Linked DNA regions of Homo sapiens: region 2 is linked to region 1. Evidence: fine-mapped expression QTL. Tissue or cell type: whole blood. Region 1 holds a variant in brackets; the other region holds the start of a gene. All regions are shown on one strand. Distances are from middle to middle.

The links. PIP is the estimated chance that this variant, and not a neighbour inherited with it, causes the effect.
Region 2: it holds the start of NCOA1, and the variant in region 1 is fine-mapped to the expression of NCOA1 in whole blood (TOPMed, PIP above 0.99).

The regions. Positions count from the first base shown.
Region 1 is chr2:24,455,220-24,465,765 of GRCh38, forward strand. LOC105374329 (a long non-coding RNA gene) reads left to right here. Exons shown (of 3, transcript XR_001739340.3): 3 at 7,855-7,935. Among named protein-coding and RNA genes, the nearest start is that of NCOA1, 31 kb to the right of the region's middle. RefSeq lists an enhancer at 1,740-2,337 and a cis regulatory region at 2,539-2,896. The variant C/T (reference allele first, on the strand shown) is at 6,264.
Region 2 is chr2:24,486,169-24,496,714 of GRCh38, forward strand. It overlaps NCOA1 (nuclear receptor coactivator 1), which reads left to right and starts at 5,086. Exons shown (of 23, transcript NM_003743.5): 1 at 5,086-5,434. RefSeq lists silencers at 4,739-5,078, 5,056-5,214, 5,369-5,858.

The DNA.
Region 1 (10,546 bases):
TTTCACCATGTTGACCAGGCTGGTCTTGAACTCCTGACCTCATGATCCCCCCACCTCGGCCTCCCAAAGTGCTGGGATTACAGGTGTGAGCCACCAAACCTAGCCTTTTTTTTTTTTTGAGACAGAGTCTGCTCTTGTCGCCCAAGCTGGAGTGTAGTGGCATGATCTCAGCTCATTGCAACCTCTGCCTCCCGGTTCAAGTGACTCTCATGCCTCAGCCTCCTGAGTAGCTGGGATTATAGGTGCATACCACGCTGCCTGGCTAATTTTTGTATTTTTAGTAGAGATGGGGGGGGGGGTTTCACCATGTTGGCCAGGCTGGTCTTGTACCCCTGAACTCAAGTGATCCGTCTGCCTCAGCCTCCAAAGTGCTGGGATTACAGGTGTGAGCCACTGTGCCTGGCCAGGATGAGAGCATTTTTGATACTCATATTAAGACTGCCTCCTAGAAGATGATAACTGCTGGAAATAAAAGTTTTACAATTAGAGTAAGCAAAGTTATCAGAGAATGGGACAAAACACTCTTTTTTTTTTTTTTTGAGATGGAGTCTTGCTCTGTCGCCCAGGCTGGAGAGCAGTGGCACGATCTCGGCTCACTGCAAGCTCTGCCTCCCGGGTTCACGCCATTCTCCTGCCTCAGCCTCCCGAGTAGCTGGGACTACAGGTGCCCACCACCACGCCCGGCTAATTTTTTGTATTTTTAGCAGAGATGAGGTTTCACCATGTTAGCCAGGATGGTCTCAATCTCCTGACCTTGTGATCCGCCCGACTCGGACTCCCAAAATGCTGGGATTACAGGCTTGAGCTACTGCGCCCGGCCGACAAAACACTCTTGACAATAAATTAATGGGGGAGAGCTCTGCTGGAGATTGAAGCAGAACAGGACCATGAGAAGAAAGGACAGTTTAATGCCAAAATTCTACCAAATACAAAATTCTTTTTTGAAATGGAATGATTGCATAGCGATAAAAATAGCAATCAGGAACAATTAAATGAACTTGGAGCCCTTCATGTACTTGAAGAAACACCTGTAATTTACTATATGGGAACAGCCAAAAGGATAATTATTTAAGCAGCTAAATTAAGGCTTGTTTCTTAACTTTTGATAAATGTGATCTCTTACAAATTCTCAAAGTAGAGAAGGATATTTTATTATACAGCTGTCTAAAATATTGGTTAAAGAGAACTCTTTTGTTTTAACTTATAGTTAACTTTTTTAAAAAATTATGGTTAACTTTTAACTTTCAACTACCAATAGTTCATATTTATAGTTGACTTTTGTAAGTTTTTAAACTGAAAAATAAACTTTTAACTATCAATATGACCAATGTAAATGTGAACTATATGCTTGGATGCAAAGCAGTTCATTAATTCTAATGGTATTGCACATTAATCTTGGCTTCAACACAGTCCAAAACTTGCCTAAGCCCTGTTGGTTGCTGGGGAGTTTTTGATTCTTGTGTATGTGTCTAATTTACTAATGAACCTTGGTGTCATTTAGGGCTGAACCAAGAGCATCTGAACGGGTCTGGCCGATCCCAGGCAGCTGGGGAAGGACACCTCGGTGTACTGAGCAGAGCTGGAAGAACACCAGCGCTGGGATGAGTCAGATACTCTCAGAGTGTGTAGTGAGTCAGAATCAGTGCCCCCACTCCCCTAGCTGTAGCAAAAAAACAAAAAATAAAAAGGAAAAGAAAAAAGGAAGGTATTAAAGGACACACCACAAACCCCCTCCCCGTGACCCTTCGTACCCTGAGTGTTGTGGACCCTGCCTATTCCAAGGAGGCACAGACCAGAGGCCATAATGTAAGCGATGGCCAGAGGTGAAACCAGCAAATCCAACCTCAACCCTAACTCTGACATGATGGACAGCAAGAAAGGGGACAGGTGGGCCAGCACCTGTCACTGGGGTGTCATCATCAGTGATGCATCTTGGGGAATCTGCAAGTGATCTTGGGAGCTGGGAATGCACCAGAATATGTGAGCTCTGGTGTCTTAGAGACTTTGGTTTAAATGTAAATCCTTTCTTTGTCATTAAGTGGGTGTTACTGGGACAAGTCTCTTAAACTCTGAGACACACATCCCTAATCTGAAGGTGATAATGTCCTTTCTCACTAGGTGGTTGGTTTGGTGGGGGTGGGGGGTACAGATTGCTAAAGATGATTTCATGCTTTCACTTAGCTCAACTCTGGGCCTGACATGAATGAGGTACTCCATAAATACTTGCTGAATAAATGTCTAAGTGATGCCACCACTAGATCACCCAGCTGAGGCTGTGCTTGACACCTGGTTGACATGTTTTCCAGGACACGGTCTCTTAAGACCCTGTTGCCTATCCCCTGGAGATCAGGAGCAGAGTCTGTTTCCTCATCTGGGAATATTCTGTGTCCTATAGAGAAAGCTTATGCAGAAAAGTTACACATGGAAACATCTCAAGTATTCAAAAGCACTGTTCAATAATCTACAGACATGCACAGTGTTCATGAAAATGACTCTCCTAGCCAATACGCCACTGGTGAATATTAGTATCTTGGTGATGAGGAACCAGAGGCTTTTGAGGCTTATTTCAGTATTTGTGCTCATTTTTGGAGAAATACCATCCAACATTCTTTTGACCAAATTTTACTGAAAGCTTCTCCTCTGCAAGGTTTTGTTTTAGGTCCACCCAACAGAAAGAATTACAAGATAAGGCTCAGAAGCCCTATCTAAAGCCTGCAATCTAAAGCCTGCAATGACCGCACGGATGCCTGTAGTCCAGGGTCAAGCTGTGGAACAAGAAGCCTGAAGACAGAGTTGTGAGACTGTCTCATTAATTTTTGTAATTCTCACTGGGTCTATTGTTCTGTCACACAAAAAATAATGGTCATAATCATGATGATGATGAGGATGATAATGGTAATAATGTAATTGCAAACATCCCGAGTGCTTCCTATATGCCAAACACTGTGCTAAGAGCTCCATGCATTCACATGTTGCTTCATTTAAGTTTTACAACTCTGTCGGGTAGCTTCTCTTTTAAACTTGATTACAGATAAGAGAATTAAGGCAAAACTTTTCTCTGGAAGATGCAGAAGACATCTGTTTGCTTGTTCATCTGAGTTTCAGCATCATATAAAAATTTGGGAAACAAAAATGGAATAAAAAATGTCATGTTTCTAGATGGTGCTAGAAAGTAGATGTTGAGGGAAAAGAAGAAGAAAACTAATATTATTTGAATATTATGATGTGCCAAGCACCTTTACACATATGATTTTGTTTAATCTTAATTTTGCAGATGAAAAAAATAGAAGATTAGAGAGTTAACGTAAGTTGAGCCCCCAAATGCCTGACTCTAAAGTCCGCATTCTTTTCGTTCTATCATGGAATTCTGGCTCTGTCACTTACTACCCATCTGTGACTTTTTTTATTTTTTTATTTTTTGAGACAGAGTCTTGCTCTGTGGCCCAGGCTGGAGTGCAGTGGTGTGATCTCGGCTTACTGCAACCTCCACCTCCTGGGTTCAAGAGATTCTCCTGCTTCAGCCTCCCAAGTAGCTGGGATTACAGGCACGTGCCACCACGCCCAGCTAATTTTTGGATTAGTAGAGACGGGGTCTCACCATGTTGGCCAGGCTGGTCTTGAACTCCTGACCTCAAGTGATCTGCCCCCCTCAGCCTCCCAAAGTGGTGGGATTACAGGTGTGAGCCACCGCGCCCGGCCCCATCTCTGACATTTTTAAAACTTTGGGGCTGTAACAGTAAAATGGAGATTCAAAGCCTGACCACCTACCCCCAAGGATGTTTTAAGAAATCATGTGAAGTAATCGAGGTGTTTGACAAAAATGAAATAGGCATGGATATTGAGAGCAAATAATCCAAATTTGAATGAAGGAGATATGAGCATAACTATGATACAAAATGTTAGGCGTCATTATACTTGTTTGAGCAAAATGCCTGCAGCACAGAAAAGAGTTATTGCTGTTGCCTGGGTGAGCCATGGAAGAGCCCACAGAGAAAGTGACATTTGAGCTAAGCTCAAATGAGGAGGGTTTCATTAGGTTAAAAAAAGAAAAACAAATAGGGAAGTTGAGGAAGGGCATTTTAAGGAGAGGCCACAGTGGAGGCAAAGGAATGGAGGTGTGAGAGCTTGTGATATGTCCAGGGCGCAGTGAGCTGTAGAGAATGCCAGAGGACCATGTGCCCTGGGATTGGCAGACGGCGAGCCTGGCATGACTGGACCAGATTTAGAAGGGCCTTGAATGCCACCCTGAGGCCTTTGCATTTAATTCTGTAGGCAACTGGGAGCCACCAAGGGTGATTACCCAAAGAATCCATAAGGACAAAGAGTCTGAACAGGGCCTTTTGCCATTCTGTTCTTGTGATGATCACAAAGTCCCATGTTCAGAACATCACAGTCTGTTGCCATGGAAATAGTAATGGGCCTCACTATGGGAATAAATTATCCTCATCATTATACCTTTCTTCCAAGGAACTCAAAGTGTTTGTTGTATGTGTTTTCTTTTCTTTCTTTCTTTCTTTTTTTTAAATAGAAGCACCAGATGGTGGTTAAGGGAAAGAAGAAAGCCTAAAGACTGTTGAATTAAAGGAGATTTCAAAGGAATGGAAGGAAAAACACAAGTTGAATTTTGAAAGGTTTAATCAAAACAGATGGCAGAATATCTCAGCCTGAGGGAAGGGGAAAACTGTCTCAGAAGCCATCTGATTTAGGAGCTTCTTCACCCTGGCTTCCTGGGTCCCTGTCTGCTCCCGCCTGCAGGCTGACTGTTCAAACTGGTTAATGAGGAAGGAAAGGTGTGTGTGTGCACACGCATGCATGTGTGTACCAGATAATAGATATGCCAGACACAAGAATTAACATTGTCAAAATGCCCTTTTAATTAGAGTTCTATAAATACTGTTTATTATGCATGGAATCTTTATTTTCAGATTGATTTTTTTTAATAATCAACAAAGTTTTATTATCTTCACAAAATTGTATCTGCTGTTTCCACTCGGGGTAGAAGAAGGAAACTATTGTTTGTGCTTATCTAATTTGCACACACTTTCCTGTATCACTTTTTTATTTTTATTTATTTATTTATTTTGAGACAGGGTCTCACTCTGCTGGAGCGCAGTGGTGCCATCATAGCTGACTGCAGCCTCGAACTCCTGGGCTCAAGCGACCCTCCCACCTCAGCCTTCTGACTAGCTGGAACTACAGGCATGTGCCACCATGCCCAGCTAATTTTTTTTTTTTTTTTTTTTTTTGAGACAGAGTCTCACTCTATTGCCCAGGCTGGAGTGCAGCGGTGCAATCTTGGCTCACTGCAACCTCTACCTCACAGGTTCAAGCAATTCTCGTGCCTCAGCCTCCCGAGTAGCTGGGACTACAGGGCGTGCGCCACCACCCCCAGCTAATTTTGTTTGTATTTTTAGTAGAGACAGGGTTTCGCCATGTTGGCTAGGCTGGTCTCAAACTCCTGACCTCAGGTGATCCATTCGTCTCGGCCTCCCAAGGTGCTGGAATTACAGGTGTGAGCCACAGCTCCTGGCCTTAATTTTTTGTATATTTTGTAGAGACGGGTTTTTGCCATGTTGCCTAGGTTGTTTCTGAACTCCTGGACTCAAGCTATCCACCCACCTCAGCCTCCCAAAATGCTGGGATTACAGGTGTGAGTCACTGTGATTGGCCCAAGTATCATCCCATTTTAATTCATCGCTCAGGATAGAATAATCCTATCATTATTCCTTGTTACAGAGGTAGGCCCACAGAAATTGCAAATATTGCCCACGTTATTTCTAAGTGGCAGATAAGTAGGAGAGCCCTGATCTGAACTGTGGTCAGCTCAGGCTCCTTCCAAAACTCTGAGACTTCTGGACCTGACACTCCAAACTGAGAGAATCTGAGCAAGTTACTCATTCTGCCTGAGCCTCAGTTTCCTCTATAGGATGGGAAAGCAATGCCTTCTCCAGCATTCTTCCTTTAGCGGCATGGGTATGGAATAGAACTTGAGTCTGAAGAATGGTAGACAGTTCTGGTATCCTGTGCACCTCATTTGAGACCTCTGTGCCCCTGTCTTGCCAGGCTGCCCACGTTATTTTGAGTGGGCAACTCAAGTTCTAAGGATTGAAATAGTTTTTTTTTTTAATTATAAAATGCAAAAGGCAGGAAGAAGTTAGGGCATTGGGGTGCCAGAGAGGTTACATTTAAATAACAAGTATTTAATGAGTGTCTACTAAGTGCCTTCACTGTGTTAGTTTGTGGGGATACTAAAATAAGCAAAA[C/T]GCACAGGGCCCAGCTACCCTAGAGGGCTTAGACAAAGAGCAGGCATGCGAGGATTTCTACGTGGAAGCTGCATTTGAAATGAGGTTTTAGCCATTATCCTCCATGAAAGACAGCTTCCTAAACTGATATCTTATTCCGTCTTCAAGGAAGGAAGGAAAAGCATGTTTTTCTTAACCTGCTCTAACAATCTTAGGCATCCATCCCCACTCCCTGTTCTCCCCAATACAGATCATCCTTATCACATACAATGCTTTTCAGCCTCCTGAATATTCTTGGTTTAGATATGAGCCTCAAATTAGATGGATCAGAGTAAAAATGCTTGAGGATGAATTCTTTATCATTCTACTGTTTATGGACAGCCCTACTGCATAGAAATGCACTGCTGGCTGATAACCCAACTGTCTGGCTGCAGATTGTGGTTTTACTGTGAGTAGGAAGGGGAAGAGAGCAGGGCGAGGTAGCTGCTGCAAAAGAGGAGCAGAGTGAGTACACAGAACCCCAGCCCCCAGGGTTCCCGGCTCATCTGCAGCCTGATCTCAAATCCTTCCAACCTGCCACAGCTCAAAAGGGGAACACTTTTCCATAAAAAGCCATGCCTTTTGGTTTGAATGTTTCTCCAACACACGCTGTCTCTAAAGTGCTTGGTTTTCTCTGCTCACCGACTTTGATTCACCTTACACAGTTCTGCGCACGACTACATTTTACTAAAGCTTAAGTGAATTCGAAAGAGTTTCTTACCCAATGTCGTTGGGTATTGGGGTTGGTGGGAACATAAAAGAACCTTTTCTGAGGAGGAGGACTGAGGTTGGAACCAGTGATGCACATCCCAAACGGCTACAAAATGCCAGGAAGTCTTTAGAGAACTGAGAAAAACCAAAACCAAACAGGGCTTAGAAAACCTGGAAAGGGCCGGACGTGGTGGCCCACGCCTGCAATCCCAGGGCTTTGGGAAGCCAAGGTGGGCAGATGGCTTGAGCTCAGGAGTTCAAGACCAGCCTGCACAACATGGCGAAACCTTGTCTCTACTAAAAATACAAAAATTTAGCTGTGTGTGGTGGTGTGTGCCTGTGGTCCCAGCTCGGGAAGCTGAGGCGGGAGCATCACCTTGAGCCCCGGAGGTTGAGGCTGCTGTGAGCCATGATAGCCATGACAGAGTGCTCCTCCACACTCCAGCTTGAGTGACAGAGCGAGACCTCATCTCTAAAAAAAATTTAAAAAAAGAAAAGAAAAGAAAACCTGGAAAGACAATGATGAGAAGCAGCAGTTGGGAGCAGAGAAGAGAAAGTGATCAGGAGAAATGCAGAAGAGACAGAGACCATTATGAGGGTCTCCTGGATTTTTATGGCCGTCTCAGCTTCATTCTAGAGCAAGAATAGATGGACTTCAGTAGAATTGGCCATGGCCATGGAAAGGATTTTGGATTTTATTTTAGGGTTCATTGGATTGGATGTTGGGAGTCGAGGAGAAGGAGGACTCAAGGACGTCAAGTTGAGCAACCGATGGTGCCATTTATGGAGAGGAAGGCCAGGGTCAAGAGAATCTAAAAAATGTCATTTTGCCATTGTAAATTTGAGTTGTGTTTGGATGCAGGAGTCTGAAACTCAGAGGAGAGGTTCGAATTGGAGAAACGAATTTGGGAGTTGCCGACACATAGATTCTTAACGCCATAGGAATGGAGGTAATCATCCAGGAAGACAGTCCTTCTCATAACCTGCGTTTTAAAAGGGAGAAAATTGAAGCTGGGAGAGGTCCAAAAGCTTGTTAAATAGACCCATTTTGCCACCAGTGAATGATGGAACCAAGATTCAAACCAGGGGCCACAGTGGGTATAGAGTAGCTACTATTATTGCTGTTGTTGTTCTTGTTGTCATGGCTATTATTTCTTGCTGAGGTTAAGAGCTTGGCTCCATTACATTTATGTAAAACCAGCTTAGCTCCCTAAACAGCCCCATAAAATTCCTCTGTGATGATACTCCAGTGCCCTGGGAAATCCTAAGGCTCTGCCTCCCACCTGTCATTCGAAATTGCTTGTCCTGTCCTGGGAGCTCCAGTTCCTGTTCCACTGCCCAGCACCTGGTTATTTCTGCCATGTTTCCCAGATCCTTTGGCCTGACACTTCAGTGGGACTCTCTGTGTGGCATGCACCCAGCTTTGCCCATGGGTGCTATCTTTCCCTTGGCTCCATCAATTACAACCCATGAGCCAGTTGTGCCTCATCTCTGAGGCCACTCCTGGCTCTCAGATCCCTAAAGCAAGTATGGTTCCCTGTGTACTTGCCGGTCCAGGAGGAAAGTTCAGGCAGTATCTTGGCTCTGTCTTTCAATCTATTCTTTCCGTTAAAGGCATCCTGGATATTCTTCTTAGGCCTACCTTATTTTTCCAGACTTGAGCTAATCTAATAAGATATTCATTCCATTGTCTTGCCTCTTCTGAGCCTTTTCTTGCTTTTCTCTTCCATTCTTCCCTTATAGTCTTTAATGCTTTTTAAAAAAACCTACTTTACCTCCTTCTTGTTTTAAGGTGTGCTTGTTTTTTTTTTTGTTTTTGAAGACCTTTCACCACTTCATTCCTAGGTATTGCTTTCTCCCACACCATGCCTGATTTTTCCTAGCTTCAACGTTAAAAAAAAATAGTTTAATCTTCATTGTTACCTTTTTTTTTTTTTTTCTGAGACAGAGTCTCACTCTGTCGCCCAGGCTGCAGTGCAGTGTTACTATCTTGGCTCACTGCAGCCTCCATCTCCACCTCCTAGGTTCAAGCAATTCTCCTGCCTCAGCCTCCCCAGTTGCTGGGACCACAGGCATGCACCACCTTGCCTGGCTAATTTTTGTATTTTTAGTAGAGATGGGGTTTCACCATTTTGGCCAGGCTGGTCTCAAACTCCTGGCCTCACATGATCTGGCCGCCTTGGCCTCCCAAAGTGCTAGGATTACAGGTGTGAGCCACAACACCTGGCTACCACTACCATTTGACATTGGCTAATTCTACCTTGCTCTGGGGTATCTTATCAAAATTCATGAGTATTGTTTGGGAGAGGGCTAGGATTTAATCCTCCACTTTTCCTCCATTGCTAAGAGATCTTCAGGTATAATGCATCTATTGGTTGTTGATGGTCAACATTCATTCGGATTATTCAGTAGCCACGCTGACCAGCTATTTAATATTTTTAAGATTCTCTCCCTTCAAATATCAACATTTCTACAATAGAGGCATACAGAGAATGACAACCTTTTTTTTTTTTTTTTTTTTTTTTGAGATGGAGTCTTGCTCTGTCACCCAGGCTGGAGTGCAGTGGCGCGATCTCGGCTCACTGCAAGCTCCGCCTCCCAGGTTCACGCCATTCTCCTGCCTCAGCCTCCCAAGTAGCTGGGACTACAGGCACCCGCCACCATGCTTGGCAAATTTTTTGTATTTTTAGTAGAGACAGGGTTTCACCATGTTAGCCAGGATGGTCTTGATCTCCTGACCTCATGATCCATCTGCCTTGGCCTCCCAAAGTGCTGGGATTACAGGCGTAAGCCACCGCAACTGGCCGAGAATGACAACCTTTTAACTTGAATAATGAGCCTGAGAATTCACAGAACCTAAATATCAGTTTGTAAGATTCCTGGGGGCCCACTGACCTCTATATTCTTTCTGGAAATAATATGAAGAAATAAGGTCAGCAAAAACTCAAAACAGAAGGTTTATAGGGCTTCCTTGCTGAGAATTGATGCTGCTATTATTCAAAAGGTGAGGTTTCCCTGTGCCTTCATCCAGTAATTCTCAACCAGGGGCACTCTTGACACTTAGGGGAAATATAAGAATTCCCAGGTGCAGGGGAGGGCATAGTTTGAAAAATATTGATTGAACATGTTTTTTCAAAGTATTTCATATATATTATATAGATATATATTTTTGTTTTTTTAAACTCCATCTTAACAAATATATATATGTGTATATATATATGTATTTTTTTTTAAGACAGAGTCTTGCTCTGTCGCCCAGGCTGGAGTGTAGTGGTATGATCTCAGCTCACTGCAACCTCTGCCTCCCCGGTTCAAGCAATTCTCCTGCCTCAGCCTCCTGAGTAGCTGGGATTACAGGCGTCCACCACCACATCCAGCTAACTTTTGTATTTTCAATAGAGATGGAATTTCACCATATTGGCCAGGCTGGTCTCGAACTCCTGACCTTAAGTGATCCACCTGCCTCAGCCTCCACTGCGTTCAGACTAGAATATATTTTTTAATATTTGAAAAATAAATGAGACATTTTGTTTTCATCATGTGAATTAAAGAAA
Region 2 (10,546 bases), 31 kb after region 1:
CTTGAGGTCAGGAGTTCGAGACCAGCCTGGCCAACATGGTGAAACTCTGTCTCTACTAAAAATACAAAAATTAGCTGGGCATGGTGGCAGGCGCCTGTAATCCCAGCTACTAGGGAGACTGAAGCAGGAGAATAGCTTGAACCTGGGAAGCGGAGGTTGCAGTGAGCCAAGGTCGTGCCACTGTACTCCAGCCTCGGTGACAGAGTGAGACTCAGTCTCAAAAACAAACAAACGAAAAAACCCCAGCTTCCTGGGCAATAAGTTTTATCACTCAAATAACTGTTTAGAAGGGTACTAGAACTGAGAGAAACTCTAAGAAACTTAATCCCAGACCAGTTTCACATGGAGGCAAAAACCATTCAATTTGCTTAACTGTAGCTAACTTCACAAATATCATTTTTTAATTGTTAAAAAGAAATTTATAAGATGCTCCAAATGGAACTCTATGAATATGTAATACGTACTTCTACTTAATAACACATGCTGGAAGATAGTAACCTTTAGCAGAGCCAAGATACAGTTTAAATACAGCAGAATTTTGATAGACTCAAAGTAAATCTTAGCTGTGTGTAAAGGGGTCAATGTCCAGCCTGGACTGCAAAGTAGACTGAGAATTGTGTTGTTCGGAAACAATAAAGTTAAGATAGGTATACAATGCTATGTCCAGAAACCCCCCACCCAAAGCACTGCACCTGGGTCGTAAATTGGGGCTGCTTCATTTTTACTGATATAATTGCCAACACCAAAGTTTGTGATGTCTATGGTTTTAGAGAACAATGTTTCTGAGTGAGTAGGAAAGCTGTAGTCACTTGAAGAAGGGGGTTATTATGATACTTTACAGCTGCAGCACGTCCTTAGGAGACATTGCATCCTGTTAACTTTGCAGCTGACTTTATCTGTGCCTATTTTTCTAGCCTGATGAACAGTTGAGCTGATTTTTTACCTTCTCAGTGTGAGCTAATATTTACTTTCTCATGGGCAATCCTAAATGTCAAATACTGTATTGAGTGCTTTACATACATTATTTCATTTAATCTTAGCAACAATCCTTTGAGGCAAGTGCTAGCATCCTATTTTACAGATGGGGACACTGAGTCTTGGAGATGTTGAAGTGGTTTGGCCCAGGTTTCATACAGCTAGTAAGTGACAAACCCATTTCAAACCTGGGTCTCCCTAACTCTAAACCTAGTCTTCTTAACCTCTATCCTTTAAGCAGATGTAGAAATTAAAGATTATTCAAAGTGAAATGGGTAAAATACAGAGCTGGTTATGGGCAAGTGGCAGGCTCATGCACTATGGCTAGGACCACAGATTGAAACAATTTTCTGGAGGCCAGTTTGGTAAATAATGTAGTAAAAAAATTAACATGTACCCTTTGAGCCAACAATTAATCTTCTAGAAATTTAAAGAAAATAATTTCTAAACTGCACGGAGGCATGCATTAGAATTACAGCATGATTTACAAAAATATACAAACAAAAATACAGACAATGTAAACATTTTTAGTAAGGAATTAAATGGCTAAACAGATACACAATGCAAGAGTATTTAACTATTAGGATGAAAATACATTGTACAGTAAAAGGCACCAGATTACTGATGAGCATTTATCATGTGATTTTATTTTATTTATTTTATTTTTTTGAGATGGAGTCTCACTCTGTTGCCCAGGCTGGAGTGCAGTGAGGCGATCTTGGCTCACTGCAGCTTCTGCCTCCTGGGTTCAAATGATTCTCCTGCCTCAGCCTCCTGAGTAGCTGGGATTACAGGCACCCACCACCACACTGAGTAGAGACAGAGTTTCACAATGTTGGCCAGGCTGGTCTTGAACTCCTGACCTCAGGTGATTCGCCTGTCTCGGCCTCCCAAAGTGCTGGGATTACAGGCGTGATTTTATTTTTATGTAAAATTGACTACATATAGTGTATTTATATGTGCAAATATATATAGAGAAAGGTGTGGAAACATGTTTACTATGTTTCTCTCTGGCTTGAAAAAGTTTATTTTTAAACTTTTTGTGCTGTTCTTTATTGACTGAATATTTTGTGAGTCTGTATCAATTATTATAAAACAAAAAACTATTTGAAAAAAAGAATGTCAAAGTTAAATCAATTCTTGCCTCAGTAACTGGAGTAATTTCATGCACACTAGCCATATATTTTATAGAACTGGAAATCTATTATGCTCTGGAGAAAATCCAACAGGTATGTTCTAGATTTTGCCCGTAGAACTAGGCTGTTTCTAGTCCACCAAAGGATTATATTAATTTATGGAAACAATAGGGTTTGGACTAAAACCAGTTCTATCTGGGCTATAAGAGTTAAATGTTGTCTTACATTTTTATTTATAAATATCTTCAAAGCATTTTCATTTAATTGGAGTTAGTCTTCCTTGTTGATTGGCATTGTATTTTGGGAGTAAATAAATTTTAAATAGCTAAGGTAAATGGATTTTAGAGAGGCTACTTGTACAGTCACGAAGTAAATCTAATGAATCTTTTGGCCCTATATTTAGGGTTGCTCGGGTGGATTAGTAAAATGGGCCTGTTTAGTAAAAGTAGATGGAGTCTGAGAGAAGTTGAGTATGACCAGAGAAAAGATTACCAATTGGAGACATAAAAGGGTGTTATAACTGCTTTGACAAGTGATTATGACTTGTAGAGGAAGGAGAAAAAAGTCAAAGAGTTATTATTTAAGAAACATTACCAGGCGCAGTGGCTCATGACTGTAATCCCAGCACTTTGGGAGGCCGAGGCTGGTGGATAACCTGAGGTCAGGAGTTCAAGACCAGCCTGGCCAACACGGCGAAACCCTGTCTCTACTAAAAATACAAAAAATTAGCCGGGCGTGGTGGCGGGTGCCTGTAATCCCAGCTACTCGGGAGGCTGAGGCAGGAGAATCACTTGAACCCAGGAGGCAGAGGCTGCAGTGAGCTGAGATCGCGCCACTGCACTCCAGCCTGGGCGACAAGAGCGAGACTCTGTTTCAACAACAACAAAAAAGAAACAGTACCATTCTAGAAAAGAACTCTCTCTTTAGCATACATGGATGGTTATGGCAATATAAATTAACACCTAAATAATTTGTCATTCAACAAAATCTTAGCACTGTGTGTCTTGAGGATATTTTAAAGTTAATTACGACCCCGGGCTGCAGAGTGGGAGATTGGAAGAAGGAAATTCAGGAGTTGTTTTGTTAACAGTTGAAGCTGTGGAAATAAACAGTCAACCGAAGCCAGAGGAAAGGAAGGAAAAAAATAAAACCTTGAGGATACCAACATTTTTTATGGCCCCGTAAAAAAGGAGCAGCCCAAGAAAAGTGCAAACGAAGGCAAGTTCAGAAATCAGGTAGAGAGACTCATATTGAAGACAAGGGAGGAGAGTTTCAAAAAGGAGGAGTTAGCAGTATCACGTGCTGTAGAAAGGCCACACGACAGTAGGACTGAAGTGGCCACTAGATTTGGCCTTCAGCACTTACTAGAGTCTAGTGGAGACAGGAGTACCTTGCACAAGTGGCTCATTTGTTGGCACCAGAGGCTAGAACAAGGCACTTTCACACAGTCTGCATTGGACTAGATTGGGAAGTAGGCCCTACATTAGGGGACGAAACTCATGAGTGCCCGGGTATTTTCAGCTATTATTGGGGATAGGGACTCTGCGGGTGGCTAGAGGTACTGCTAAGCCAGAGCTCAGGAGATGCACCTAGGGCCCCAGTAGTAGGTCTCCGATAAGAATCAGGGGAATGAATATATAAATGAATGAATATATGAATGCATGTGGGGGTGTGGTCTAGCGATTACTTTATGAGCGTGACAAGGATAGGAAGAGGATGGTGAAAGCATACAGTAGTACCTGCCTGTGAAAGAAGCTGCCCGTCGACTCAGAGAGCTGCCACGGAGATTGGTGTTTTCAAGGCTGTCAGGTTCCCCAGTTGGGAGAAGGGTGGGAAGGGCTTAAGGATTTACAGAGATTGATTTAGGGGAGAACACACAGGAAGCGAAACAGCAGGAAACGCCGGGAGACAGCAGCAGCAGGACAGGATTGAGGAAGGGTAAGAGTGCGAAATGGGGTAAGAATAAAAGAAAGGAATGGACAGATGTATGCTTTACAAGGCACTTCCACGGCGAGTGACTCATTCATGCTTAGGACAACCCAGGGAGAGACATAGGTATATATTGCATTGCCAGCCTTTGGAATGCGGGATGCGGTCCAGATAAGGCCATCGCAGCTCAGAGAGGCTGTTCAGCCGCTGTTCGATTCCTCTGGTGACAAGAACACTCTACTTTTGGAAGTAGCACTTCTATTAGAGAAGTTAAAAAAAAAAAAAAAAGAAAAGGGAGATAAGAAGAAAGGTGTGGGCCCCTTGAGGGGAAAGATCTGTGAATGACAGACATTTTAGATAATTCATGGAATTGCAGAGCCAGAACGGGTCAGGCAGATCTTTTCATCTGTAAAACGAAGGGGGCAGACGATCTTCCTTTTCTCTTGTCTAATAGCCTGTGAAATCATCTAGGCAACCACCTCCCAATTTTACAGAATAAAAAACGAGGCCCGCGGGATATGTCTCGCTCAAAGTAACAGAACGCCCGAGTGGAGGGACAGGCCCGGAGCCGACTCCGCCCCGTCCGCAGGGCCTCTCGCCGCTCCGACACCTTCCCAGAAAGATAAAGAACAGCGGGAGGCGGCAGGCCCGGCGGCCTAGCTGCGAGCGCCCTGGTGTTCGAGGCCGCTTCCCGGCAGCAGTGGGAGGAACGCCCCGAGGGGAGGGCAGGAGAGGGGCGGGGAGGAGTTGAGACGGGCGGGGAAGAGTTCGGGCCTCCTTTCCCACACTTCGTTAGGACGCCGGCTGGGGCGGGCCGGCAGAGGGCGCGGGGCGGTTCCTCGCTCGGCGGGCCCGGCAGGCCCGGCGGGCTGGGGGCGCGCTGTCCCGGGCGCACTGTCGGAGCTCGCGGGCACCGGGTCGCGGCGGCCCGGGCGGCCGGAGCCGGCAGGGGAAGTGCGGCGGGCGGGCAGGCGGGCGGCCGGGAACGGGCGGGGCGGGGCGGGGCGCGAAGGGGGCGGTGCCGCGAGCGGGGGGCGGTGGCGGCGGCGGCGGTGGCGGCCGAGGAGGAGAACATGGCGGCCGCGGAGAGCGGCTGAAATGCCTGTTCTTCAGGCCGGGCGAGCGGGAGTCTGACGCGATTTGCTGAGCTCTGTCCTCCGACGGCTGCCTCGCGGCCTTGAGGGCCTCCGCCGCCTGTTCGCTGCTGCTCCCTCGAGCGGAGCCTGCGTCAGGTTCCCTCTGCATCCCCCTGCGGGGGGACCCCTGCTCCGGAGGAGGGGGCCGGAGAGCCGCGGCGCCGGGCCCGAGGAGCGGCGGAGGCCGGGGCGGCGCCGCCGCCACGGTCGCGGACGAGTGCGGCGCCGGTGAGCGGGGCCCAGAGGCGGCGGCGGCAGGTGAGTGGCGGGCTGCGGGTGCGGAGCCTCCCGGTGGGTGCAGCTGTCACGAGCCGCGCGGCCGCGGAGGCCCTAGGGGGCGGGGAGCAGCTGGCGCCCCTCCGCCCCCTGCTCTCCTTTCTCCCGCTCCATCCTCCTCCCACTTCCCCGAGTTCCCCTCGCGGCCCGGCGCGGCTGGAGGGGGCGGAGGTCGCAGCTGTCACGGGCACCAGCTGGGGGCTGCTCCCCGCCGGGGGAAATCGCTGCAGCAGCGACTTCTCTCCGCCTCTTTTCCAGTTGCCCTAGTTAGCGCGGAGAGGGCGAGCATCCGCGGAGGGGGTGCGAGCTGCGCGGCCGCCTGCCCGGCGTGGGGAGCGGGCGCCCCGGGCCGCCGCCGAGAGGGGGAGCCGGAAGTCGGCGCGGGCGCCCCTCGGCCCCGACGACGCCGTGACCTTGGCCGGCCCGCTCACCTCTCGGAATCTCGCCTGCCGGGACCGCGAAATGGGGGCGACCGCGGCGTCCCTCTCCGTCGGCGCAGCCCTCGACGGCGCTTGGGTTTGACCCCGGCGCGCTTGCTCGCCCCTTCTCCCGAGAAGGGGTTTCGGAGGTAGACATGGGATGGATACTGGACATGTTCCTGTCGCGGCCCGGGTTTGGTCCCCTTCCTGGGATTCAGCCGAAAGGGCCGAGGAAGGGAAGCAAACATGTTGACGAGGCGATTGGGAGGTGGGGTTGGTTAGTGGGCAGTGACAGAATTCGGGCCGCTCTCTAGTCCCTTGTAAAAGACCTGAAAAAATCGGACACCCAGGGTCTCCAGTCCTTACTACCCAGCTGTGGTGGCTGCTTTTTTATTTTATTTAAAAGCAGTTACCCCCATGGGTAGACACTGCCCAGTCTGACGACGTTAGAGGGAGACGGAGGGGTTGACAATACAGCCTGTGTGTGTGTGACAAGGACAGGCCACGGTGTTGTGTCCGGAGAGTTTCATGGGGAGGAAAACTTTAAGCTGGAGGATCTGTTAGCCTCTCATGCTTGGCCCTCCTCGTTTCTTGTAGAGGTGTTGAACAGGCAGGTGTCCTTGTGCAGAAGGTGACATTTTTTCTTCGGAGACGGTGAGTTTTTAATGTCGAGTGTGATGTTGGTGAGTAAAGGGTTCTTGAGTGAATTGCAGTCCCAGCACCCTCTGTGGATGCCAAGAGGAATCTCTGTGGCGATGATTTGTGAGGGCTGGTGCTTACATTTCAGTGATTAAGAAATCAAGTGTCTGCTTAAAACATTACTGCCGTGAAGCGTAGATTATATGATACAGTTGAGGGATGGATCTCAAGGGTTAAATTTGTTTGAGGTTTGTCTCCTCTTCTGGAATTGGTTGGAGGCTAGTCTCAAAAAAAAAGCAAACAAAACAACAACAATAACAACGAAAGTTGGCCAGAGGGGCCTCCTATGATGTTGTAGGAAGGGGGTCGGATTTCTTCATGTTGAGAATAATGTGAAAAGAAAGTATTTGCTTAGGTCTCTTGGATCTTCAACTAGAAATAGTTTTGGGTTAAAGGTAGCAGTGGGGTTTGATTCAGCTTAACAAATAGGCATTCCTTGAACTATTTGCCATAAATTAGATAAAATGGAAGTGTTTCTGTTTTATCTCCTGTACTTTGTGGAAAGGTCTAATTTGGTTTTGTGAACGAATGTCCGAAATGTTTTATATTTCTTCTTCAGACTCTATGCTTTGGGAACAGTGGGTCACAGAGAGGGTCTGAGTTGGGAATATATGGTTTAGAGAGAAAATAGAGGACTGCTGCTTATAAGAACAGGTGTTTAGTTTGATTTTTGTAGATATTTTCTACTGGTTATTTAACAACATTGAAGTTTGCTTTATAAGGTGCAAAACGTGAATTTTACGTAGCTTACACTTGATCTCTTCCTTATTTCTCTCAGAAAACCTGTAGGATTGTGCCTATTAAATTGCTTTTTGTGTGGTTTAAACCAAGAGAGTATTTTAGATCTGCAGTGGTTTTATTGGAAAAAAAAAAAAAGTGCTTGATGGAGCTAATGGTGATTGTTTCACTTAAACTAGGATTATATAGACAATGCTTCTTCCTGCCTCTTTCTGCGAACATTTGTTTTTGTTTCTCCCTCAATTCCAGGGTTTCATTTCTAGAAATCTGGGCTGCAAACAGAAGCAGCAGTTTGTATAATCCCAAGAACTTGCTTATGCCAGGAAGCTGTAAGGGTAGCATGAAGCGGGTGTGATGTAAAGACACTGCTACTACTTAAGACATTTAACTGTTGAGGGAGTCTAAGGTCAAACTTTAATTTTTGTTGAATTTCCTGTTTTCTGCTTATGTGTTAATCTTTTGGTGGGCAGAAGATTGGGTTGCTATGGTGCTAACTGGTGTATATTGTGAAAGTGCTGGCAACATTTCATGCTTTTACTCTATAGGGAAGGGTGGTAAACAAGCCTAAATAATTTAAAGATGTTGTTCTCAGAATGGAATGTTCTGTGCATGTCTTCTTGATCCTGCTAATCCAGTGAGCGGTCTTCACTAGGACTAAATGTTGAGTAAGTGATGAGGGTGGTATAGAGGTGCTGAAAGGTGGAGTGGTGGAGAGAGGGTATTGGGCATTTTCTTGAAATTCTTTTCCCCAATTCTGTATAGGGAATCTGTATACTAGACTGTGATTTATAATTGTTTTTCAAGGATGTTTTAGTTCTCCCTGCTTGGTTGTCATCAATTTCATATACCTCCTCTTAGATACTACCTCTGTTCCGTACTTTAGTTTGTCTTTTTTGCTGCGTCTCCCAAGGACTCCACATTGTTTGAATGTTATGTTGCATATCTTATGGAGTTGGCTGGCCTTAAGCCATGTGGCTTAACATAGTTTTCATTATAGGGCAGGTGTGGGAGGTCAATACAACGCACAACACGGAGTAAAATCTAAGTCATGGAGCATAGGAGATCCCCGGGACGCTCATGATTGTTTTGGCATTGGTTTTTGCCTTTTAAATATGATTATAACAGAAATTCTCAGAGGACCATCAGCTGCTTTCCTGGCAGAGGTCCAAAAATGTTTTGGAGGGTTCCATTTTGCATTACTTGCAAATATTGGATGCTGTGGTCGGTGTGGGCTCGGGTGAAATCCATGTGTTTCAGGAGGTGGATGTCAGAACACTGTATCTGATCTGGGCTGCAGAACCGTATAAATTTCTCCCTATCTTAGATTAACTTTCCTACCCATTTGGGAAGACTAGACTGTAGGAAAGGACTTTTTAAAATTGCTTCTTTCCCAGATTAGCAGTAGTTTAGCCGTTGGTGATTGGCAACTAAGGATAGGCCTCATGTTCTATTCTTAACATTGAAGATGAGGTCTAGTCATTTAAAACCTTTCCTTTTCTCTTTATATTTTAGTTAGACCTTGTGCCTTTCAACATTTGGTGTCAGAGGTCATAAAATGGCCTAGTGGCAACTAGGTACCAATGTTGGTTGCTTCATTTCATAAGGAGATGAAGGTGTTTTTTTTTTGTTTTTTTTTTTTAATAGCTTAGTTCTGGAAAATGGTTTGTGGGCTATAGTATTTGGATTAATGTATAGAAATGATTATTATATATTTCTGCAGGATACATGGCTGAATAAGGGAAATTATTATAAAACGCTGATACCAACATATAAGTCCAATTCCATAAGTTTAAGTAAAGTGAGTTGTATCCATGCTTCTTCCCCCATAACCCCATCTGCAACACAGAATTTTTGAGGCTCCTTGGAGTGATAGGCTTTTAGAAAAGCTTAGTATGGTTATCATATTTAAAAGATAAGTAGCTTATGCCAAAATAGAAGCTCTAGTCACTCGAGGAGTTATGGAAGACTCACCCTCATCTTGGATATATTTTGTTCTTACCACTCCCCGAGAGTATGTTTTAGTGTGTGGAGGGCAGGGATGTTTGGTTTTACTGAGTAGCCCTGACCTGACCATTAGGCACAGACAGGCCAGACTCATAAAAATAGGTGCAAGCACGGAAGCAAAACGCACCCATTATCAGGACCAGAATTCTAATTGTACTGGATTATCCAGTTTTTCCAGAGTGATGCTTCATTTTTGCCCTTTCAGCTTATAATTGTGGGGCAATTTTAAAGCATCTTTTAGAAAAGAAACTCTGACCAGACAGACAGAGGTGTCCTAGCTCTTCCAGATACTTAGGTTGATGTAGCCTTGAGCTGTTTAACCACACTAAACTTCAGTTTTTATATTTAAAATTGGAGTAACGTACTTGTCCTCATATTGTAATCTTTAAAATTATTAAATGTGTTTAGCATATGATTGGCACATAGACATTAATGACTAACAGGTATTTCATTAGCGAATTCATCACCAAATTCTCGCATTCTTTTCTTTGTAATTTCTCAAATTTTTTCCTTTATTTCTGGTTCTGCAATCTGGTCCTCCTGTCATTTGCACATGGAGTAATGGGAGTCACATTGACTCTGTGGGCCTGAGTTTCTTTATCATTAAATGAGCATGTTGGTCTAATTTCACATTTCTTCTTGTTTTAAAATTCTGTGATTTGTAGGTTTATAGCTGTTTGCTTGCATGCATTTACCTCTCTAATTTGTCCTACACATAATGCTGAAGAAATTCCCTTCTAAAAAAATTTTTTTATGTTATTGTTTTCAGAGGAGATTTTCTGTGGGCAAATTTATCAAATGTAAATCATTTAAACTGATTCTTTCATTTCCCATTCCAGAAAATTTGCTGTAGATGGCATATGCAGAAATACTTCGCAAACTGTAAAGTGCTACGCAATGAAGAAAGTATTATGATAATCATAGATATCTTGCGTCTTTGCTTTTACATGTTCCATTTTCTTCATTTAAATTGGATTTCCTTTATGTTCTCGTGACCTTCAAAAACAGCATCAAAGCTGGTATGTTTTCAAGAAAGCTTGATTTTTATCACTCCCTTAGCATTAGGTACTCTGTTCTGTATAATAAACTTCTCTTTCTCTCTCTTTCTTTTGAGAGAGATTCTCTTTTTAGTGTGTGTTGATTGGTTTTCCTAAACAGATTGGAAAACGCTTGAGATGCCAGGAACTACAACATTTAGAGTTAAAGAGCCTTAAATGATCATTTAGGACAGCCT